Homo sapiens: one gene and its partners. The protein of the gene in region 3 interacts with the protein of the main gene of each other region in a pairwise test. Each region holds a gene or a part of one and is shown on either strand. Other genes may lie near its edges. The genes, in order: RNF20, POLDIP3, NCBP1 and BNIP2.

Region 1 (6,210 bases), 3.9 Mb from region 3:
TCCGATTTCCCCAACCCTGGTAACCACCATTCTACACTCTGCTTCCAAGATTTTGACTTTTTTAGATCCCACATACAAGTGAGATCATGCAGTATTTGCCTTTCCGTGCTTGGTTTATTTCAGTTAGCATAATGTCCTCTAAATATATCCATGCTGTTGCACATATACACACACACACTCACATACAAACACACACCACATTTCTTTATCCATTCAGTGTACAGTTCTTTCATCTCCCTGGTTAAGGTTATTCACAATTTTTTTTAATGGTATTGTAAATGGGATTGTTTTCTTAATTTCTTTTTTATAGAGTTTGTTGTTGGTATATAGACACACAATTGTTTTTGTATGTTGATTCTGTAGCCTGCAACTTTACTGAATTCATTTATAGTTCTAACAGTTTTTTCGTGGAGCCTGTAAGGTTTTCTATATATAAAGTCATGTCATCTATAAACAGAAACAACTTTACCTCTTCCTTTCTGATTAAGAGGCCTTTATTTCTTATCCTTGCCTAATTACTCTGGCTAGGACAAAAGTAATGACAGCGAGCATCTTTATCCTGTTCCTGATCTTAAAGGAAAAGCTTTCAACTTTTCGCCATTGGGTATAATGTTGGCTGTGGGCTTGTTTTATATGGCCTTTATTATGTTGAGGTACACTTCTTTACACCTAATTTGTTAAGAGTTTTATCATAAAAGGATGTTGGATTTTGTCTACATTTTTCTTATCCCTCATGAATACGCAGATTCACAACTATGTATATACGTGAGTTGATCAGCAGAACGTCTGATTTTACTGCCCTTCAGGGATGCGTTCCTACCTTCAGCTTTTCATTTTGTGTAGTGACCTCCTCAAAGTCTTGCCGAAGTTTCTCCAGCTCACAGAGACGGTTCTGAGCCAACTCTTTGTTCTCCTCAAGCTCTGCATTCATTTCCTCAAACTGCAGAGAAGCAGAAAAATAGAGAATAAATAAGTATTCTTCTTAAATCATTTCTAAGCTTCCTTTCTTCACTGATTCGCTATTCCAGCAAAACCCCATGATGTCACTTGTGAACACAGTCCTAAGTACCTAAGCATGAAAGCTGACATACAGTCCAAAACATGTCCTGAGTCACTGATTTTACCTTCCGAGCATTGATAGTGATTGTGCCGCCATACAGACTGCTCCCCGCTCCATACACCTTATAACCTTTGGAATTCACCTACAGAGAACACAAAGATTCTTTAGTGAGAGACTCTTAAGATTTCAGTCTATAACCAATGTACCTTCAAAGGATGAGATTTTTTCCTCAAATACCATGCCCCAAGGTGAGTCTTCCTGAGAACACTCCTTAAAATGATTCTAGTCTCCAAGCCATAAAACAGCACTGACCCGTTCTAGGACTTCTGCTAAGTGTCGGTTGAGTCGCTGTTCCCTCTTTCGAATTTTGTCAATATCCCACTGCAGGTCATCAATCATGGACTCCAGGACAGACACTCGTGATTCGGCTGTCTCCACTTTACTCTGCAACTTGGAGAACTACATCCCAAAGACAAACATTCAGAAACATATAGCAAAAAAAGACCAAATTCCATAATATTAACCCTTGCTTATGAGTAATTATAGAAAAGAGGCAAATAGAAGATGCTTCACCCTCTTCCCAATGCATGATTACAAAAATGAAATCACGGATTCCTCCAACAATTCTGTGTCAGTTATAATCATGCAAACTTTAAGTCTAAAGTCTATAAGAACTCTCACACAAAGAAAAGACCACCTAAGATTCAACAATTTTTCTACCTCTGAAAAGCACCATTTCTCTGGACAGACCACAAACTCATAAAAATTTTGTAATTTTTTAAGAGATAATAAATAGTATCTTTTGTTTTGTAAGATAAATATTTTTTCAAAAAAACCATTTTTACCCCCAAATTTCTCTCCACAGTCCCACAAAAGGTAATCCATTCATTCACAACAAAAGAAAACTTCCATACTCTTTTTTAAGCTCACCCCAGAGCAATCTAGAGTCAGATACAATACAGTATAGATTATACTATAATCTAAAGTCAGATACTCTATTTAGGAGCTATACACCAGCTAACACTATTTAGTATTTTAACTACTAAACTATTACAAGTTCACATTAATCTATATATACCCTTTGTGCTAGGTTTTAAAACATGACACAAAAATCCTTTGAAAGTCCTCTGAACAAGAGGTGGGATCTTTGTTCCCTCCTCTTGAATCTGGGTCAACTTTAGAGACCCAATGGAAATGTCACTACACAATTTTGAGGCTATATCAGAAAGGCCATGAAGGTTCTACCTGGTGATCTTGGGATGCTCACTGGAAGAAGTCAGCCAACATGTAAAAATTCCAACCATCCTGAGACTACCATGATGGAGAGGCAAACTGCAGGTATCCCAGTAGACAATTAACCCAGCTGACAGGCAGCATCAACAGCCAGCCATGAGAGCCAACAAGGACATCACAGTTTAGCAAACAACTGCCCTCCAGGTTAGTAATACTATCTGAGATTTGTCAAAGGGCTAGAAAAGGAAGACCTCTCCATCTTGGTAGCACCTAGTCAATGTCTTAAAACATGATAAAAATATTCTATTTTCTTACTAGACTCCAGTTTATTTATAAGGGCTACTACATTCTAACCCCTTTGAAGGTCCAGGATAATCCATATGAATTAATAAATTCCCCAGATGATATTCATGCAACCAGGCCAGCATGGACCTTAACACTGGGGTTTAGTAAACAAAGGCATATGAAGAACAAGAGCTTTGAAGTCAAACAGACCTACAGTCACAACACAGCTCAATCACTTTCTAGCTATGTGCCCTCAGAATAATCACTAACCTCTTTGAATTTGTTTCTTTGGCAATAAAATGGGAGTTGTTTTGCCATTAGAGATAACATTCATAAAGTGCTTAAATTCTAGGCACTAAGTAAATGGCAACTACTAAATTACTAATTAGCATAAGAATTCAGTGGCCAAACTAAGGTGGGGCAAATTCCAGTAGAATATATTTTGAACTAAATCAAAATGATCATCAGAAGTATCAGAAAAGTCATTTAAGGCCTATCATCACTTTATCTTGATCATTTTGTGTAAATAAATAAATGTCCAAATCTTGGCATGGTTTAATCATGGCATTATTTGCACCCAAGTTTAGACTGAAAATTGACATTCCTCAAATTCCTAGGACATCATCAATACAGTAGTTTCTACTTCCCCATTCCCTGTGGAATTTCTACCACGCCATTCCTCAATAACACTATACAGTCTTTTATATTTAGGGTAATTCATTATTTGGAGGTTTGGAGTTGTGTTGTGTTTTACAAAATCCCCTATGATATGATAGGCCTTCTAGAGTAAGGTAATCTTTGAGGTGCTCAGAATTGTAAGTCAACATCTGCCACAGCCCACTAGACACAGCCATCTCTCCTTTTTGGTTAAGTACCTCCTGAGACATGGTGCGATGCTTTTCCTGAAGAAGATCTGTCAATTCCTGTAGCCTCATATTCTCCTGTGCGAGGAAAGAGTTCAGCTCCTGCACTGCTTCCTCCACTATCAGATTATCTGGGGAAGAAGAACTATACTTTAATTTAGCATCTAGAGTGTCATTTTTTTTTTTTTTTTAAGACGGAGTCTTGCTCTATCGCCCAGGCTGGAGTACAGTGGCGCGATCTCGGCTCACTGCAACCTCTGCCTCCAGGGTTCGAGCCGATTCTCCTGCCTCAGCCTCCAGAGTAGCTGGGATTACAGGCACATGCCACCACACCCGGATGATTTTTGTATTTTTAGTAGAGATGGGGTTTCACCATGTCGGACAGGCTGGTCTCAAACTCCTGACCTCAGGTGATCCACCCACCTCAGCCTCCCAAAGTGCTGGGATTACAGGTGTGAGCCACCGTGCCTGGCCTATAGTGTCAAATTTTAAAACTGTGTATCCTTGGCCAGGTATAGCAGCTCACGCTGTAATCCTAGCACCTTGGGAAGCCAAGGCAGGCCGATCACTTGAGGCCAGGAGTTCAAGACCAGCCTGAATAACAAAGCAAGAATCATATGCTCTTATCACATATTCTCATATCATATATTCTGAAATACTATGTTAGGGGCACTTCTGAAGCTTAAAAACCAAAATGTACACTACTATTTACAAAGCAGGTAGGTAAATCCATAGAACTTATTACACCAAGTTCGTATGTTTAAAATTAGAGTTGCAAATACTATAGCTGAAATCCAAATGTAATTAAATGAAACCAGATACTCTCAGGATATATACCACCCATCAAAGAGAGTTATCAGGAAGAAAAATATGCTTTCTCATATCACCTCTTGGCATTACTCTTAGTATCAATACAGAACAGGTTGGTCATATGGTGGTTTTCATGGTTTTCAAGCTAGGCTTGCCCATCAGAATCACTTGTGGAACTTTTAAAATAGACATTTCCCTAGGACCTATCTCATACCTACTTAATAAGAACCTCCATGGGCAAAGCCAAAAATAAGAATATGCTCAGAAAACTCCCAAGGTTATTCTGATTCATAACCTGAGTTAAGAAGTAGAGACTGAATTTTAGTCCTCTCAATATCCTAAGCACTGAGGACAGGGCTAGAATACAATAAAATTCAATAAATGTTTAGTGAATTTATAAACAAGCCCATAAATGCAATTCTTTTGAATCAAAGACCAAACAAACAGACAGTACTGCCCTGGCAGGTTAGACAGTGCCGCCCTGGCAGGGTTAGACAGTGCCGCTCTGGCAGGTTAGACAGTGCCGCCCTGGCAGGTTAGACAGTTCCGCTCTGGCAGGGTTGGACAGTACTGCAGTGGCAGGGTTAGACAGTGCCACCCTGGCAGGGTTAGACAGTGCTGCCTTGGCAGGTTAGACAGTGCCGCCCTGGCAGAGTTAGACAGTGCCGCTCTGGCAGGTTAGACAGTGCCGCTCTGGCAGGTTAGACAGTGCCGCCCTGGCAGGGTTAGACAGTGCCGCCCTGGAAGGGTTAGACAGTGCCGCCCTGGAAGGGTTAGACAGTGCCGCCCTGGCACGGTTAGACAGTACTGCCGTGGCAGGTTAGACAGTGCCGCTCTGGCAGGGTTAGATGAATTTATAGACCTTACTCTATAAGGCCTATACTTGCTCTAGAAGGCCTTACCTTACTCTAGAAGGCCTATCATATCATAGGGGATTTTGTAAAACACAACACAACTCCAAACCTCCAAATAATGAATTACCCTAAATATAAAAGACTGTATAGTGTTATTGAGGAATGGCGTGGTAGAAATTCCACAGGGAATGGGGAAGTAGAAACTACTGTATTGATGATGTCCTAGGAATTTGAGGAATGTCAATTTTCAGTCTAAGTCAGGGGGATGAACTTTCAAACAAGTTACAACTGATGCTATAATTCATACTTTATACATCTTTATCTCTTAGAAAGTTCAGCTTACCAATGGCAATTGCCTTTTGTGTTACAAATAATGGCATGGCTATTTGTAATGTTTCTACTTTTTAACTTAAACCCGACCTTAAAATGCATGCCATTAAATAGTAATTTTAAAGTCGTTTGATATACTACTCATTTTATTCCCTTTTTAAATAAAACAATTGTTTCACTTGATATTCATTTATGAAATCAAGTTTAACATAGTCTATGCACATGGCATATTAATTACCATATTACTAAAATTTAACAATACCTTCTAACTATTCAATTAGAGCCCAAGGAGAAAGAAGCATATGTGCACACACAAAGCACCATTATTTTATATTAGGTGACAGGGAGGTTCACATCCATTCATTCCCCATTGACTAAACATCTGCTAGATGCCAGATGCAGTGCTAGAAACTAGAGAAACAAAGAAGAGTGAGCCAAACTACTGAACCAAGACACAGTTTAGCTGGGGACATGCAAGTAGATGTAAGATATTAATACAAAAGTACAAAAGTCTGAGAGGACATAAAACACATTGTTTAGAATGGTTATCTTTTGAGAAATGAGAATGGGGAAACTTTTGTAGTCTACTTATTTGTATTTCTGACTTGTATATTTTTAAACAAGTATCTGTTTTCCTTATAATAAAATACAGAAATGCATAATCTAATGGAAAAGCAAAAGAAACCCGTGACCAAATTTTCACAGGCCTTCTACAAGCTGCTTAATTCTGTTGACAACTTAGCCCAATTACCCTTAAAAGCAAAATTACAGAATA
Region 2 (6,210 bases), on a different chromosome or scaffold from region 3:
GAGACTCCGTCTCAAAAAAAAAAAAAAAAAGTGAACAAAGATATATCACTCAAATAGCAACCCTAAGAAAGCTGGTCTTTTACTTATTAGCTTATTAGCTATTAGTAATATAAAATGAAATATACTTTAAAACAACAAAAAAAGTGACTAGAGGTAAAGAGAGATTTAAATTTGACTGAAGGGTCAATTCATCAGGAAGAAAACAATCAAACATATATGCAAGTAACAACAGAACCTCAAATATATAAAATAAAAATACACAGAAGTGAAAGGAACAGACCAACAGTAATAAAGATCTCGCCGGGTGCAGTGGCTCACACCTCTAATCCCAGCACTTTGGGAAGCCCAGGTGGACGGATCACTTGAGGTCAGGACTTCAAAACCAGCCTGGCCAACATGAGGTCAGGAAATCAAGACCATCCTGGCTGACACAGTGAAACCCCATCTCTACGAAAAATACAAATATTAGCTGGGCGTGACAGTGGGCACCTGTAATCCCAGCTACTTGGGAGGCTGAGGCAGGAGAATTGCTTGAACCCGGGAGGCAGAGGTTGCAGTGAGCTGAGATCATGCCACTGCACTCCAGCCTGGGTGACAGAGGGAGACTCCGTATCAAAAAAAAAAAACAGAACCTCAGTATTTCACTTTCAATACTAGATAGAACCAAGCAGATCAACAATGAAACGCACTTAAACATTACAAAGCAACAAGACATAATAGACATGTACAGAACATTCCACCTAACAACAAGAAAATACATATTTTCCTTAAACACTCATAGAAGAAAAGAAAATCTGGAAAATTCATGAATATATGGAAATTGAAACAATCCTAAATAACCAATGGGTCAAAGGAGAAATCACAAGGGAGATTAGAAAATAATTCAAGATGAATGAAAATGAAGGCATGATATACCAAAACACGGAATGCAGTTACAGCCATGCTTAGAATATATAGCTGTAAATGCACATACAGTCATGTATCATTTAACCATGGGAATACATTCCAGAGTGCAGTGGCACGATCACAGCTCACTACAGCCTCAACTTCCCAGGCTCAAGTGATCCTCCCACCTCAGCCTCCCCAGCATCTGGGACTACAGGCACACGCCACCACGCGCCCAGCTAATTTATTTTTTGAGACAGGGTCTTGCCACGTTGCACAGGTTGGTCTCAAGTTTCTAGGCTCAAGCGATCCTCCTGCCTCAGCCTCCCAAAGTGCTGGAATTACAGGCTTCAGCCACCACACCCGGCTGTACAGCATGTTACTCTACTGAGTAGAGTAGGCAACTGTATTTGTACATCTAAACGTAGAAAAAATACAGTAAAAATATGGTATTATAATGTTATGGGCCCACTGTCATATATGTGGTCTGCTGTTAACCAAAAAGTCCTTATACTGCATATGAATACATTAAAAAGCAGAAATAAACCTACAGAATGGGAGAAAATATTGGTAAATCACTTATCTGATAAGGGACTTAAGAATATGTAAAGTACTTCTACAACTCAGTATTTAAAAAGCAGACAAAGATTCTGTACAGGCATTTCTCCAAAGATAGCTGGGCACAGTGGCTCATGCCTATAATCCTAGCACTTTTGAGAGGCCGAGGTGGGCAGATCACCTGAGGTCAGGAGTTTGAGACCAGCCCGGCCAACATGGTGAAACCCTATCTCTACTAAAAATACAAAAAAATTAGCTGGGCTTGGTGGCGTGCACCTGTAGTCCCAGCTACTTGGGAGGCTGAGGCAGGAAAGCCGCTTGAACCGGGGAGGCGGAGGTTGCAGTGAGCTGAGATCACGCCACTGCACCCCAGCCTGGGCAACAGAGAGAAACTCAAAAAAAATAAAAAAATAAAAAAATAATAAAAAATAAAAATAAAAAAAAGAAAGAAAAAGGAAAATAAGTATCTTTCCACATCCAAACATATGACAAAAAATAAGAAAAAACAAAAAAAGAACAGAAATTCAAAACAAAATTAATTTCTTTAATGACATACAAATGGCCAATAAGCACATGAAAAGGTGCTCAACATCATTAGCCATGGGGAAATGCAAATCAGAACTCCACTGACTCACCCAGGGGAGTTCACCCAGGTGCCAAGATTTAGCCAAGGCTCCAGGTCTTTTATTTGTAATTTTTTTTATTGTTGTATTGTTTTATTAGTCTCTGCTTCTCCACTTCTAGCACAGGGCCTTGGTCCACAGTAGGCACTCAATACATACTGAAAGAACAAATGAGTGGAAAAGGAGCATGGCAGACAGAATTCTTCTCTACAGGCTGTCTGGAGATGAAAAATATGAACCTCAAGTCAATAAAGTCTGTTGTTTACCCACCAGGAGCAGCTCTCACCCAGGTGTCAACATTCAGACAAAACTCCAGGGCTGGGAGGAACTTCTGCCCTAGCACTAAACAGATCAACATCTGGGAGGCAACAGCTGTGCCTCTTGGCTCCCCTGGCAAGACCCCTTAAGAGAACCATCCATGGAGAAATGCTGTTTTCCTTTTTGCTGGGCTCAAAAGCTTAAGGGCTGGGTGAAAATCCAGGGCCCTGTGTAACCCACAGCTCAGGACTACTCAGAGACTGCACGGCAGTTCCTGGTGCAGACGAGGCCCCAGAGATGGGTTCCACCCATCTCACAGAGACTTCCCCTGGAAGGCCTGCTACCTGACAGCAAGTAGAGATGAGTGGGAGGGTCAGGGGACTGCTTTCTCCCTAACTTACCGTCCAGACACCGGTTGTTGTACTTCTTATATGCGGTGATGGCATCGTCCTTTTTCACAAACACCACCTCCGCTACCCCAGGATGGACCAGTCGAGCTCGCTTGAGGGCCCCACACACACAGAAAAGCTCCTGCACACAACAAGAGGGGTTGGGATTGGGGAAGGATTTCTCAGCACCTGCCGCTCACACACTCTGAAGGCCCTGGGGTGTGGTGGTTCCGCTGCAGCTAAATGCGCCCTGCGCCTGAGACTGCGGGGAGGCTCCACGCGAGGTGGTGCTCTGGAGACATCCACAGGCTTCAACACAGCACCAGATGAGGTCAGCAGTGGGAAAGGGGCTGGGTTTACAAGCCTTGGATCACCTGGGATCTCCCAGCAAGCCACCACCAAAGTCTTCAGTGCCCACCTCAACAGGGATAAAACAGTTATGAAAATTTTCGCAAAGAGCCCTGTCATTAGAATACATGTATACAAAGAAAGACAGCTGCTAATATGTCACCTGAGAATCTGTTACAAATACAAATTCTGGAGTTCTACCCAGAGTCCTGGTTTGGCTGGACTGAAGGGTTTCCCTGGACATGAGACTTTGAGTGATGAAACCAGGAGAGTCCCCAGCAAAACAGGGACAGTTGGTCACTCTAAGTCAGACCTGAGTTTGATCCCCCAGGCTCTGCTTTCTATCTGCTATGAGACGTCTAGCAAATTACTTAACTTCTCTGAGCCTGTTTCCTCCTCTGAAAATAAAAAGGACTAGCTTACTTCCCAGCTTTACTGGAAAGCTCAACTGAGATAATTTTTAAGGCAGTGCTTTGCACACATCATTGAGTCCGATCTCCACCTCATTTTACAGACAAGACGACTAAGGCCAGAGAGGGAGCAAAATGTGAAGATGGACAGAGGCTGACTAGCACTCACGCCATTTCTTCACCTGCAACTGCCTTCACAAGGTTGCTGTGAGGGCCAAAAGAAGGTTTATGAAAAGGTCCTTGACATGGTTTGTTTTTAATGGTAAATATCAAAACAAGATGCCCCTCTGCACCTGCAGGAGACTGGTTCCAGAACCGCTCGCAGATACTAAAATCTGTAGATGCTCAAGTCCCTGCTATAAAATGCTGTAGTATTTACACATAACCTATGCACATCATCCACTATACTTTAAATCATCTCTAGATTACTTATAATACCAAATACAATGTAAATGCTATATAAATAGTTATACTGTATTTCTAAAATTTGTATTATTTCTCATCATACTGTTATTTTTAAAAATTTGAGTATTTTCATTCAGTGGTTGGCTAAATCCACAGATGCAGAACCGACAGATATGGAGGGCCAACTATAAATAGTAGGTGTAATTCCAATTTTATTACCATTGTCCTTTTAACATTGCCTATTTGGGTAGAAGAGAAGCGAGGGTGATTATTACTAGCAATTTCCCCTGAGCACTGATCATGACTGGTGTTTAGTTTTCCACCATTATGTATCTTCCAAGAGTCTGCCTAAAGTGACTGGCACATAGCAAGTACTCAGTAAATGGCAGTTGTTATTACGCTCCTTAACAGCTTTAATTCTTTTCTTTTTTTGAGAGAGTCTCACTCTGTCACCCAGGCTGGAGTGCAATGGCGTGACCTCGGCTCACTGCAACTTTCACCTCCCAGGTTCTAAGTGATTCTCCTGCCTTAGCCTCCTGAGTAGCTGGGACTACAGGCACGTGCCACCACGCCTGGCGAATTTTTCTGTTTTTAGTAGAGACAGGGTTTTGCCATGTTGGCCAGGCTGGTCTCGAACTCCTGACCTCAGGTGATCCACCAACCTTGGCCTCCCAAAGTGCTGGGATTACAGGCGTGAGCCACTGCACCCGGCAATCAGCTTTAATTCTTAATGACTTGTCAAGTATTACACAAAATAGGCTACAATTTCCATCCTCACGTGCACCATTCACAGTACTGTCCCTGCTAAAGGAGAAGGAGATACGAGTGACCCATCTCACGGCATGCGTGTGTTTCACAATTAAGATTTAACCTCAGCTGGGCACAGTGGCTCACACCTGTAATACCAGCACTTTGGGAGGCCAAGACAGGCAGATCATGAGGTCAGGAGTTCAAGACCAACACGGCCAACATGGTGAAACCTCGTCTCTACTGAAAAATACAAAAATTAGCCGGGTGTGGTGGCACACGCCTATAATCCCAGCTACCAGGGAGGCTGAGGCATAAGAATCACTTGAACCCAGGAGGCGGAAGTTGCAGTGAGCCAAGATCGCACTACTGGCACTCCAGCCTGGGCGACAGAGCAAGACTCCATCTTTAAAAAAAACAAATCGAGGTGGGTGGATCATTTGAGGTCACGAGTTCGAGACCAGCCTGGCCAACATGGTGAAACCCTGCCTCTACTGAAAATACAAAAATTAGCCAGGCGTAGTGGCAGGCGCCTCTAATCCCAGCTACTCGGGAGGCTGAGGCAGGAGAATTGCTAGAGCCTGGGAGGCAGAGGTTGCAGTGAACCGAGATCACACCATTACACTCTAGCTTGGGTGACAGAGTGAGACTCCATCTCAAAAACAAAACAAAACAAAACAAAAAGATTTAACAAATGTAGTGACCAGTGCAGTCTGTTAGTCTGGGACTTAACTGCAGGGAGAGGCTGGATTCTCCAAACGTATTCATTTTGTGATCTGACAGTTCAAAGGATGCCTGGATTTCTAAACTAATGGCTCTTTTGGGTGCCTGAATGAAAATGATGTTGAAAAGAAGTCCTAGCTGCATCCAGAACCCCGCTCACAGACATTTGACAGGTTTTGCCCATGACTGCCATGGGTGGGACGGGATGGACCAGGAAGGTGGATACCACCAATCCATCTCACTTCTTTCACTTTGGAATCATCTTGTAATACCTCCAAAGGACACAGGAAAACACAACTATTGGATACTGCCCAGTGGGACTAAAGGATCCCATTTAGGACCCATTATAGCATAGATATCCCCTGACTCTGAGATTCAGGCCAGGCACCTGGCCTTGGCTAGAAGCTGTGCAGAAGAGTGAAGCAGCTGGGCTGACTGCTATTGTTTGAAAGGTCCGATTCCAGGGGTGGCCCTTGGCTGGCATCTGAGAACTCGGATCTCAGGAGGGCTCCTGCCACCCCACAGTTCACTGTGCCTGGACTGTGCAAACAACATGGTTTCTGCTCAACAGCTGCTTTCCCTCTGGGAGTCTGGAATTTTAGTACATGCTACACAGAGAATGCCGAAGTGACCAGCCCCCAGTAAAACCTTTGGGTACTGAGTCTTTAATGAGCTTCCCTGGTGTCACATGTATTGTCACAACTTGCTGCGAGTTGCACCCAGCATCCTGTGCGACTCTGCTGGGAGGGGCCTCTGGAGGCTTGTGCCTCGTTTCCCCCCGACTTCACCCCATGAGCCATTTGCTCTGCATCCTTTTGCTGTCATTAGTCTCAGCCCTGAGCGTGACTATATGCTGAGTCTGGT
Region 3 (6,210 bases):
ATTTCTAATGTTTTTTAATAAACAACTTGTAAAAGGCCAGAACAGAAACAAAATCCTGTTCGTTTTGGGAGTAATATGTATTTTATATATTTATACTCTTCTAGCAAGGGATGGATATGCACCTTACAGAGGTGATACCAATTAAATACAAATTCAGGAGAAACAAATTTTGAGGTCCCATTCTAGTTTCCCCTGCACAAAAAAAAAAAAATACCCGACCACAAACATTAGCAGTCTTAAATGTAAACCAGATTTTCAGTTAGACATATCTAAGTAGATCATTACATAATTTTGACTAAAGTATTTGGTTACATATGGAATATAGCAAAGACGGCAGCAAGCTGATAATTTTGTATATGTAACTGATTATCTGAGAAATTTTTATTCCAAAATAGATTACATATATACTAAATTCCTACTGGTCATTAGCACTTTACCATAGAACAGAAAAGAGACAATAGAAGAAACTCAAATTTGACTTAGGTGGTAATATTAATTTTTATGGCAATAGTTTTCAACTGGGGGCAATTTTGCTCTTGAGGGGACATATTGCACTCTCTGGAGATATTTTTGGTTGTCAAAACTGAGGCAGGGAGAGTGCTATTGACATTTAGAGGGTAGAGATCAGGGACACCGCTGAGCATCTTACAATACACAGGATAGTACCCACAATGAAAATTATAAATTTTCTTAATTGTACAATATACAATTATAACAGTACAATGGCTGCCAGGAAACTTGACTTTGAAATAAAGAACATGTATATTAAAAATGATAAAGTCAGCTTAGACTAATCTTTGGAATTTTTTAATTAAAAATACTTCCAACATTTGTTTTCAAATAATCATACAATATGAATAATCACAAGACAGGCTGTGTTGCCTAGAGAGGGACCATACCTAAAACTAGGTACTTTTACTGAGAAATAACCTTATTAAGTATAATTATGGACAGGTGCAGTGGCTCATGCCTGTAAGCCCAACACTTTGGGAAAACGAAGCGGACGAATTGCTTGAGCCCAGGAGTTTGAGACCAACCAGGGCAACATGGCGAAATCTCAACTCTACAAAAAATTTGCCAGGCTAGGTGACACATGCCTGTGGTCCCAGCTACTCAGGAGGCTGAAGTGGAAGGATCGCTTGAGCACAGGAGGCAGAGGTTGCAGTGAGCTTAGATCTCACCTGCAGCCTGGGCAACAAAGTAAGACCCCATTTCGAAAAGAAAAAAATAAGAAAGAAAAATTGCCAGAATGACTGAGCATTCATCATGTGACAGACACTGTTCTTGTTCTATGCATTTTACATGTGAATAATTTAATCCTCATAACATGAGATATATACTACTATTATGAGATGTATACTATTATTATTACCTTCAGGAAATGAAAGCACAGGGAGGTAAATAACCTTCCCAAATTAACACAGCTAGTATTTGGCTAAACCAAGATTAAAACACAAACCAACGTAGCTCTAAAAACCCAAAACCCACACTCTTAGCCTGCAAACTGTGCACGTCTCTGTAATCTATTTACACATGCCAAATATAATTTCTTGCATAATGAGGTGATATCATTCACTGAATTAAAAAGTTAACTTCATTGCTACTGACCTTCTTAGATAAAAACAACTCAAAATTAAAACATACCACAGGCATAATTCAAGCGGGATTAACCCACAAGCACAATGCAACACAGGTCAATATCTAGGACTTTTAGTCGGTCACTTACCTCGGGATCATCTGTGTAATCAAACATTCTGAAGATGACCCTTGGCATTGGGTACACTGAATCTTCAGTGTGAGGAGGTGGTGTAAAAGGAGGCAGATTGTGCTGCAGTGCTTCACACAGGATGCTGTCAAAGGCAAGATAAGGTCTTAGGATGTGCCGTTCCTGCCAGCGATCCTTTTTCAATTTCTGAATCTGGGCCCACAGGCAATCTAAATACTAAAGACAGATTAATTTTTAATCATTAATATAATTAACATTTTGACTAGACAAAATGAAAAAATCACTACCCTTTAAAATACAGGATACAAAAGTAAGCTAACTTGTAAGATGGTACAAAAAAAGGTGCTAAGTTTTTGTTTTTATTTTACTTACAAAGTCTACCTGTTTGGAACTGTCTGTTTTGACATTTTTCAAATTAAGCATTTAAATAAATATATGTCAACTCTGTAATAGCTGGCATTCCAAAGAACAAGGGAATATTTCAATTACATTCTATCATCTATTAAAGACCTACCATACACCTTGAGCTATGAGAAGGAACTATCATGAAATGTAGAAACACAGTCAAAGGGTAAAATGGAATGGTCTGAGTATCTTACAGAGATAAGAATCTATTCAAGAGCTGACTGTGTTTGTATCACAAGGGACTGAAATCCATTTACCTCTTCTTGTGGATGTGGTTTATCAGCAGTCCATACCTGTAACATGGGTACATGAGTCTTTTGGCGTCTTCTAAAGATAAAAATGAAAATCTACATTTAGGCTTTTAAAAACAAGAGATGCTCAGTCACCCTCACAGTTATTAAAATGCAAATTAAAGCAATGAAATAACATTTTACCTACTGGAGTGGCAGATATCAACTGTTTTGATAATGTACTGTGTATCATCAAGATGCAGGTCAAGATTCAGTCTCAAACATTGTTGACAAAGAGGTTAACTGATATAATCTCTTTGGGAAAGTATAATCTCTTTGGAAGGTAATTTGACTAAATCTATCAAAATTGTTTAGAACCCTCAACTCGGCAATGCCATTTCTAAAAATTTATATCCCCCATAAATATATTTGCACATGTACATAAAAACATATACACAAAGATATTCACTGAAACATTGTTTATAAGAGCAAAAGATTGAAAATAACCTAAACGTCCACCAACAGGAGACTACGGAAATCATGGTACATTAAAAAGTGAAATACCCTACAACTGTTAAAAAGAATGAAGTAGAGTTAAGTATTTTTATGCAACAAATCCAAGTTATAGTAAGAAAAAAAAAAAAAGCCAAGTGAAGAACAGTGTGTATATTGGGCTATCATTTGAATAAAAAAGAGAAAGGATATGTATACACACACACACGATTCTTTTTTTTTTTTTTTTTTTTTTTGAGACGGAGTCTCACTCTGTTGCCCAGGCTGGAGTGCAGTGGCGGCACCATGTCGGCTCACTGCAACCTCCGTCTCCTGGGTTCAAGCAATTCTCCTGCCTCAGCCTCCCGAGTAGCTGGGATTACAGGCACCCACCACCACGCTCGGCTAATTTTTGTATTTTTTAGTAGAGATGGGTTTTCACCATGTTGGCCAGGCTGGTCTCAAACTCCTGACCTCGGGTGATCCACCTGCCTTGGCCTCCTAAAGTGCTGGGATTACAGGCGTGAGCCACTGCGCCCGGCCAAAAGATTCTTATTTTTTAAGCTTCTTTTAACTTTACTTAATAACCAACTAAGTAGCTATTAACAGTTATCCAAAAAAAGCACTTAAAAAAGAGAAAATGAAACTTAACAACAAAATCAATCTGTAAAAACCTAAGGGCCACATAACCATTACCATGTTGCTGGATAGTTAAGCATAAATTTACTAAAAAGACCTATTTATTATTATTGTATCTAACAATATAAACCAAGCTTTTACATTGGCTTAGGAGAGATGAGTAATGGGAAGACATGTGACTATTTTAATTGAAATGTGTCATATTACTTAAGAAGTACTGGCTGGATGGAGGGTTAAGGACCACTGTTTTAAGAGCTTGATTTAAGATTAATTTACATGAACTAAATATACTGTATGTGCTAGGACAGTGGTTCTCCACTTGTGAAATGTGTTAATAATACAGATGTCCAAACCTCTCTCTCAAATTGTATAATTTATCAGGTCTGGGGGTTGGGGTCTGAGTATTTTAAGTACCACAGGTAATTCTTATCCACACTAATATTTGAGGAACTATTGCACTAGGGTGTTTTATGTCTTTTATAAACAAACATATAAAAGCAGCTTAAAAGAAGCTATATTGCCAACTGTCCTTTGCACTGGCAAAAGTAAGCAAACCATATCTGACTACTTTGAGGTCTCAGTGAGTTAAAACAGCAGGAGAACAGGATTACCTAGAAAATACCTTCAGGAACTCTACAGCTTATTTTTGAGAAACTCAAATGGTATCACTGATATAAGATATCCTTTACCTAAGCAACAAAGAGTACTATGAGCTGTGCCCTTACTTAAGATAGCTTTCAGTGTTGGCAAAGATGCGGTCCATCTCTGCATCTTTCTTTTCGTACAACTCCTTTCCAACCCAGGGCAAAGATGACAGAAATGCATACACATACCAATCTCGTCGCACCTAAAGGATTTTTAAAAAGTTAAGTTTAAAATATGCTTTAATTATATTCATTCATATTTTATTTATTCTTGAATGAAATCCTATGGAAGCTATTTAATAGGACTTAAATAAGACATCTGGTTTATACAGAGCATTTCTAGATATATTAGTTCTAATCTTACTAGACAGCATCATTTAAATCAACATACAGATATTATGAGAACCCACCAGTGTGCCAGTCAGCTTAATTTTTAGATAGTAAGAACTTAAAGTGTGATAGTCTGCTGTTATTTTTTTCTTTATTGCTAATGGGTTATCAGCGAAAAATTCCTGGTACTATATGGAAGTACCAGGATTCAGTAACCCCTCAAGAACCCCTCAAGATTCAGCATGAGGGGTTCTCTTACCTGAGGTACATCTTCTTCCTGAGTTACGCTTACAAAATTTTCAAACATAGCAACCATTGATGGGGCGGCAATCACATGACAATTCACAAGATCAGATAAAAAACGGACCTGTTGGGGCAAACAATTTCTGCTATTAAACCTAAATGTTCTTTATAATAACTACAAAATAAGCAATCTTGTATAGGCTAAACTATTGGTCTAAAAAACTATAGCCTAAGGGCTGAATCTAGCCTACTACCTGTTTTTTGCATAGCTGGGAACTAAAAATGGTTTTTACATTTTTAAATGCGTGAAAAAAAAATCAAGAGTATTTTATGACATATACAAATTACATGAAATTCAAGTTTCAGTGCCCATAAGTAAACTTAGTGGAATAGCCACGCTCATTCAGTTACATATTGTCTATGGTTGCTTTTGTGCTACAATGGCAGAATTGAGAAGTTGTAACAAAGACTATATAAAGGACAGTAATCTGTGAGTTCATACGTTTCTATGCTATACTACATCAAGAATCCAGATTGTAAAATATTCTAGCTACTTCAACCTATAATCTCCTTTTCTGTTTGGCTGTAATTTTCACTGAATTACAGAAATGGAAATTACAGAACACATATTTATTGGGTGTGCTTAGTGTGCTATTGCTAAACACTACTAAAAGTCACTGTTAGGGGACCCATTCTAGTGGAACAAGCACAATCTCAATACAAAGGAATGACTCCCACACTAAAAGGCAAATTAAGCATTTTTTAGGAACAATGACAAAGGGAGTTGGGGAAAGCATCACAAAGGAGGTAACAATTAGGCTAGGTCATAAAGGATAGCAACAGCCTCAAGTAGTGAGCAAGGAGGGCAGTCTAGGCATAGAGGTTCAAAAACAAGGTGTGTTTAGGGATCTGCAAGTTATTTTGATATTGCTGGGGAGCATATGGGAGACAAGAATAGAGAAACAGACTGGGGAAACCATAAAGGGTCAGGCTAAAGAGTCTGGACTTTAATCCTATAGCCTGATGGGTGTCCAAACTTTTTTGATTGTGTACTCAGTAAAAAAGAATTTGATCACATATCTTCAACACATACATATGTATTTATGATATACACTGGATCACCATTAATCTATGTATTATTAGTAAGGTTTAATTTCATTTCCACTTAAGATAAATAAGAGTTCTTAATATTCACTTCCTGAAACCCAAGGAATCATCTTGTGCACCAGGCTTTTAAGACCACTCACTGTAGACAATGGGAAGGAACTAAGGTTTTTTTAACCAGTAACCAACATGTGCAGAGCCTAGTTATAGAAAGACCAGTCTGGTGCCACTGTAGAACACAAAGTGAAAAGCAGAGAATCTAGATGCAAAAAGATCAGTTAAGAGGCTATTAAGAACATCTGGAGGAAGGCATAAACTATGCTAGAGGCCCTGGAGACTAAGAAAGGACAGACTTGAGAGAAATTAGGGAGACAGAATTGACAGGGATTGGGAACAC
Region 4 (6,047 bases), on a different chromosome or scaffold from region 3:
CGTATAGCCTGCAGGTTTTCCTGCTGCATACAAGAAATGTTACCATCAGCAGTCACATATGGTACTTCCCTTAAAAGGACACACATGGCCGGGCGTGGTGGCTCAAGCCTGTAATCCAAGCATTTGGGAGGCTGAGACAGGCAGATCATGAGGTCAGGAGTTCGAGACCAGCCTAGCATGGCGAAACCCCGTCTCTACTAAAAATACAAAAATTAGCCGGGCATTGTGGCGTGTGCCTGTAATCCCAGCTACTCAGGAGGCTGAGGCAGGAGAAATGCTTGAACCCGGGAGGCAGAGGTTGCAGTGAGCCAGGATTGCGCCACTGCACTCCAGAATGGGTGACAGAGTGAGTCTCTGTCTCCAAAAAAAAAAAAAAAAAAAGAGAGGGCACACATACAGTGGCATCTTAGGTAACAACTATGTCTTTATCTCTTTATAAAGGTTTGCTTTCTCTTACTTCCTACTTTTATCACTTTCCAATGCCTCTGCTAGACCCTACTTAGAATCATATTTCTTCATATCTCCCTCTGAGTTAAAGATTGTTAAGCTTAAATTGTGGGGTGAATAGAACGTCTTCCCTTGGTGCTTGCTTAGGAGTATGATCAAGCAGAACACAGAATCAAATTATTTCACATGAAAAACTTCTGACTAAAAAAGGGGCACTTAGAGCCTAGTGACAGAAGCATCAAATTAAGCCAGTTAAATTAGATCCATGATCCCAACAGAAAGATAAAAGTACAATCACATATACTTTCACCTTGGTCAGTAATGGGAAATTAAAATGGAATAATATGGGAAATGTTAACTTAGCTATAGATTAGAAACAACAGACTTAATAAATGCTCTTCCTCTAACCTACTATTATGATCTTAAATCTTATAAAACATTTATTGTGGGTACATCTCTATACCAGATTCCATTAAGGTGCAGGTTAAAGCAGGTATCCCTTTAGTTTACTGATTCACAGCACCTCATTTTCATTATATCCCAGGTGTTATCACTGTTGTCTCTGAATTTTAATGTTTAACAGAATAGTCTTCTACTTTTAAAAAAAATTCAGAAAAACATCACTTTTGCAACATGTATCTACAGTTAGGAGCAATGACTGCAAAATCAAAAATCAAAATAATGCAAAAAAGAGTTGAAGTTATTCTTCATATTTTTTAAACTGAAGAACCAAGTACTTAATGTGGTAGAAAACCACCTATTAAAAACCTCAGCCCATTTTGAGCAAGATAAAGATGTACAGATGAAAGACTACGTTAAATCGTCTACAAATATAGAATCTAATGACAAATTCAATATAATTGTTTATACATAATCCTTATATGGTAAATTCAGAAGGAATGCCTAACTTGTTATTGTTAGTTTGCTTCTTCAACAACAAGTGTTCCTAAAATGTGAGCAAGCAATAATCGTTTTGGCTCAATTCACTGTAATGACATTAGTTCAGGATCTGCCAAGAGCTGCTGGATCTGAGTTAAGTCAGGAGGCTGCTGAGGAATGTTTCATCCTGGGAATCCTCCAGCATCTCTCTCCTATAACTGGTTTTAAGTTAGCATGCCAAGTTTAGGACTGAGGAGGACAAAAAATATAGGAAAGTTCCCTTTTGTAACAGAAGGTTTGTAAGTACATGAGAATGGTCACAGCCACATGTGTGTTCAATCTAGGATAGACTAAATCTTGAAAGGTTAGCTCACATCCACTTCAATTTTGCTACTCTAGGCCACTGTTTTGTAAAATACCTTACAGGAAGGGTTGAAGAGTAGCCATGACCTTCAAATTTGGAAGGTATTATGCTTACCAGCTGTGTATGAGCCTTTCAAGTATATGACACAATATCAGATCAATCTGTTGTTTTAGAAATAATTTTGTCGGTAATTAAACTTTTTGTTTGGAGGCACAAACACAATTTATTTCAATGTAAAGGTACTACCAAATGAAACAGTTTAAATGCTTGTAACAAACGTGTTATCCAAAACAGCACAATATGATGATGCTAAGACTTACAAAATTAACCTAATTTACAGTATTGTCAAACATGATTTCATACAAACTTGAATAAACACCACATCTAACTAGGTCAAACAACTACCGAGTTCAAATAATTGATATGGAAGTATTTTGGTAAAGTGCCCATAGTGAGAGTTTAAAAAGCAGCCCCTGTTTTCTATAGAAAAAGTTGTGACAGTGAATAACTCATCACATTCTCTGCAATACTACTCAGCACTCATATACACTCAGGGGAGCAATACCCTGGACACATAGCTTATTTCACATTAGTGAACAAACTCAAGATTTTTATAAAGTTCTGACTTTGGGCCAGAAGATAAAATGTCCCATATATACATATATACAAACCCTAATTCCTACCCTCTTAAATCCTCTAGTTCTAAGAATGGCTTTTTGACTTGTCTTTAAGTTTAGAAAGGAAAAAGTGTGCAATGCGCTTGCATCTGTACTTGCTGAATTATGAAACAAATATGTTAAATGAGAAAAAAACCTTGGGATGGTACTAATACACTTCGATTATATACATGATCTTTGGGTATTCATGACAATCAGTTTAACCATCTGTTGCCTTATGAAAAACTTAATTTCCTAAGTTACCCAGGAAATGTATTTAACCATTTACAAAAACAAAAATTCTAATATGCACTTTAGAAAATCGTGGTCTTATATACCTGCATATTTCTTCCATAAGACAGGTACACATTAAAAAATATTGCTCAATGACATAAAAATATATATTATTTCTTTCCTTTGCCATTTATGCATATAAATATTTCACCGAAGAAGATGCATCATTCAATAAACAAATGCAAAAACTACTTTATATAAAGTGTGGTTCTCTATTTAGCAATATAAAATATAAAACGATAATAATACAGTTAGCTATTAAAGAGCTAAATTCAAGAAATTTGCAAACCAGTACAGCAGTGAACAGTCCCTTGTATAATACAAAAGTCCATTATGAAAAAGTCAAGTCTATTTTGTAACAGGTTACATAAAAATATGGGCCAATAAATGCATTATGAATGCAGAAACAGCACTGCTCCATCAGCACATTCTTCAGTCTTGTTTGGACTAGATGCCAAACTTACTGTTCATTTTTCGGTTCATCTTGTTTTCCATTAAGTTCTTGATCAACTCTGTTTAATGAAGAATATATAAAATAAGAAACCAGCAACTGAACAATTTTCTTTCTAAAAATAATGACTATTTTAGCATAGAATATTACTCTGTTAAAGACAAAGCTTTGCAAAGAAGCAGACATAGTAAAAACAGTTACCAAACATCATTTCCCCAACCAGAAAAGAGAATTTTTAAAGGCAGGAGGACACTGGCAAGAAATGTGACCGTTGTTTCTTTAAAGATTATAAAATACTTTACATACAAATGCATATAAACTTTTTTTTTTTCTTATTTTTGAGACGGAGTCTTGCTCTGTCACCCAGGCTGGAGTGCAGTGGCACAATCTCAGCTCGCTGCAATCTCCGCCTCCTGGGTTCACACCATTGTCCTGCCTCAGCCTCCCGAGTTGCTGGGACTACAGGCGCCCGCCACCATGCCCGGCTAATTTTTCGTATTTTTAGTAGAGGTGGGGTTTCACCATGTTAGCCAGGATGGTCTCGATCTCCTGACCTCGTGATCTGCCTGCCTCAGCCTCCCAAAGTGCTGGGATTACAGGCGTGAGCCACCGTGCCCAGCCATAAACTTTCTTAAAAGTTCAAATTACATGGCATATTAAAATCTTGACCTGTAACTTGGCTGTGGTAGGGATCCAGGTGGTACGAAAATGGCAGGAAAAACAACTCCCTCAAAAATGATTCTGTTAACTAAAATATGAAAATGCCATGAAGGCCACCAATTATCAATCAATATTTTAAAATTCAGTGATAAAAAATGCATCCTTATAGAACCCATAATTATTCTCCAAAACTTATTGGTACACAGTTTGTGAATGCCTTAAATTTGTTTTGACAGTAAGAAGCCTTAAGAATTTAACATTCAAGGCCGGATGCCGTGGCTCACGCCTGTAATCCCAGCACTTTGGGAGGCCTAGGCGGGTGGATCACGAGGTCAGGAGTTCGAGACCAGCCTGGCCAACACAGTGAAACCCCATCTCTACTAAAAATACAAAAATTAGCCAGGTGTGGTGGTACGCGTCTGTAGTCCCAGCTACTTGGGAGGCTGAGGTAGGAGAACCGCTTGAACCCAGGAGGCAGAGCTTGCAGTGAGCTGAGACCATGCCATTGCACTCCAGACTGGGTGACAGAGTGAGACTCCGTCTTAAAAAAATAAATAAAATAAAAAAAAAGAATTTAACATTCAAAAATATCTAATATAAATTAATTATTGGCTAGACACAGTGGCTTACACCTATGATCCCAGCACTTTGGAAGGCCGAGGCGGGCGGACTGCTTGACCAGGAGTTTGAGACCAGCCTGGGCAACATGGCAAAACTCCGTCTCTACAAAAAATACAAAAATTAGCCAGGTGTGGTAGTGTGCACTTGTAGTCCCAGCTACTCAGAAGGCTGAGGTGGAAGGATTGCTTGAGCCCTGGAGACGGAGGCGACAGTGAACCGAGACTGCACCACTGCACTCCAGCCTGGGTGACAGAGCAAGACCCTGTCTCAAAAAAACAAAACAAAAACCCATCAAAAAGCTTATTTATTTAGTGGTGGGTTGGACATCAGTCATATCAAAATTTACGCATGTGGGCATTAGAAGGATTACATAATTACCACATAATAATTACAGACAACCCTTCAAAGCTAACAGTCTATTACTATTACATTTGTAGTGGTCTGAATAACTGATGAAGGGACCTTTAAAACAATCCGGTATTAGATAAAGAAAAATATTTTTCATATGTTTTTATTCTCATCACCCATTACTATGCCCACCTGAATATTAGTGAAACAGACCTAAAAGCCCTGGTCTGTGGTAAAGCCAAAGTAACATTTTAAAATATTTAAAATATTGTTATAAAAAATTTGGAATGTATTTCTGATAAGGCATGCAAAATATATCAAATCCTCTTAACATCTGAAATATCCTTACCAACTAATTTCATAATTATTTTTAAACTCCCCTGAAACATTTTAACAATCTGTATCTGCATGGCCACACTTGCATCCAGTTGTTTGAAAGAAACATTTTAAACATTTAAACTGCTATCCTTTTTCTGTCACTGGGGACACTGGATCTCCCTGTTGTCAACATTTCTTCAACCCTCTTCCCCACAAGCCCCTCAAGAAAATGGTTTTGCCCCTTCTTCCCCTGCTCCCCAAAAACCTGCCATAGGGACTCATAGCTTCATACTCTTCTTAGCACCACTACTTATCATATCATGCAGTTGTCACCTTAAATAAGCTCCCTTGCACCTAGCTTCTGTAAAGTTTGGTTTAGGCTGGGCGTGGTAGCTGACGCCTGTAATCCCAGCACTTTGGGAGGCCGAGGTGGGTGGATCACTTGAGATCAGGAGTTCGAGACCATCCTGGCCAACATGGTGAAACCCAGTCTCTACTAAAAATGCAAAAATTAGCCAGGCATGGTGGTGGGTGCCTGTAATCCCAGCTACTTGGGGGGCTGAGGCAGCAGAATCGCTTGAACCCGGGAGGCAGAGATTGCAGTTAGCTGAGACTGGGCCATTGCACTCCTGCCTGGGTGACAAGAGTGAAACTCTGTCTCAAAACAAAACATGCCTCTCTACCTAAATTTAATTTAAAAATTAAATTTTATCATTTTCAGATTGACAAAAATTTATTATTTTTTAAGACTAAAGAAACTACAAAAAACAGAACGTTTTTGAAAGATACATGTAATCATTCTATTTATGGTTAAACACAAGTAAAAAAAAAATCAAGATAAAATAGTGACAGGTTTCAAACAATATATTTAAATAAAAAGTACAAATTCCATATTTTTTCTGATGTCTAAATTACTTAACAGTATTAAAAACTTTTTTTAAAAAGGCTTAATACAGCATATTTTATCAACAAAGGCAATTCACTGTGAAATCTATGAAGCAGCTGGCTT

Evidence for each region.
Region 1: the proteins of NCBP1 (region 3) and RNF20 interact in binary tests that used the Homo sapiens proteins (3 or more experiments, as listed by UniProt).
Region 2: the proteins of NCBP1 (region 3) and POLDIP3 interact in binary tests that used the Homo sapiens proteins (3 or more experiments, as listed by UniProt).
Region 4: the proteins of NCBP1 (region 3) and BNIP2 interact in a two-hybrid assay, tested with the Homo sapiens proteins (one study listed by BioGRID).

The regions. Positions count from the first base shown.
Region 1 is NC_000009.12:101,542,129-101,548,338, reverse strand, and holds part of RNF20 (E3 ubiquitin-protein ligase BRE1A), read right to left. Parts: intron 3,573-6,210; coding exon 3,454-3,572; intron 1,520-3,453; coding exon 1,373-1,519; intron 1,203-1,372; coding exon 1,125-1,202; intron 941-1,124; coding exon 821-940; intron 1-820. UniProt on the Homo sapiens protein: Component of the RNF20/40 E3 ubiquitin-protein ligase complex that mediates monoubiquitination of 'Lys-120' of histone H2B (H2BK120ub1).
Region 2 is NC_000022.11:42,589,230-42,595,439, forward strand, and holds part of POLDIP3 (polymerase delta-interacting protein 3), read right to left. Parts: intron 2,856-6,210; coding exon 2,726-2,855; intron 1-2,725. UniProt on the Homo sapiens protein: Is involved in regulation of translation. Is preferentially associated with CBC-bound spliced mRNA-protein complexes during the pioneer round of mRNA translation. Contributes to enhanced translational efficiency of spliced over nonspliced mRNAs.
Region 3 is NC_000009.12:97,643,740-97,649,949, reverse strand, and holds part of NCBP1 (nuclear cap-binding protein subunit 1), read right to left. Parts: intron 4,834-6,210; coding exon 4,726-4,833; intron 4,340-4,725; coding exon 4,218-4,339; intron 2,459-4,217; coding exon 2,389-2,458; intron 1,943-2,388; coding exon 1,727-1,942; intron 1-1,726. UniProt on the Homo sapiens protein: Component of the cap-binding complex (CBC), which binds cotranscriptionally to the 5'-cap of pre-mRNAs and is involved in various processes such as pre-mRNA splicing, translation regulation, nonsense-mediated mRNA decay, RNA-mediated gene silencing (RNAi) by microRNAs (miRNAs) and mRNA export.
Region 4 is NC_000015.10:59,660,969-59,667,015, forward strand, and holds part of BNIP2 (BCL2/adenovirus E1B 19 kDa protein-interacting protein 2), read right to left. Parts: intron 3,153-6,047; coding exon 3,101-3,152; 3' UTR 1-3,100.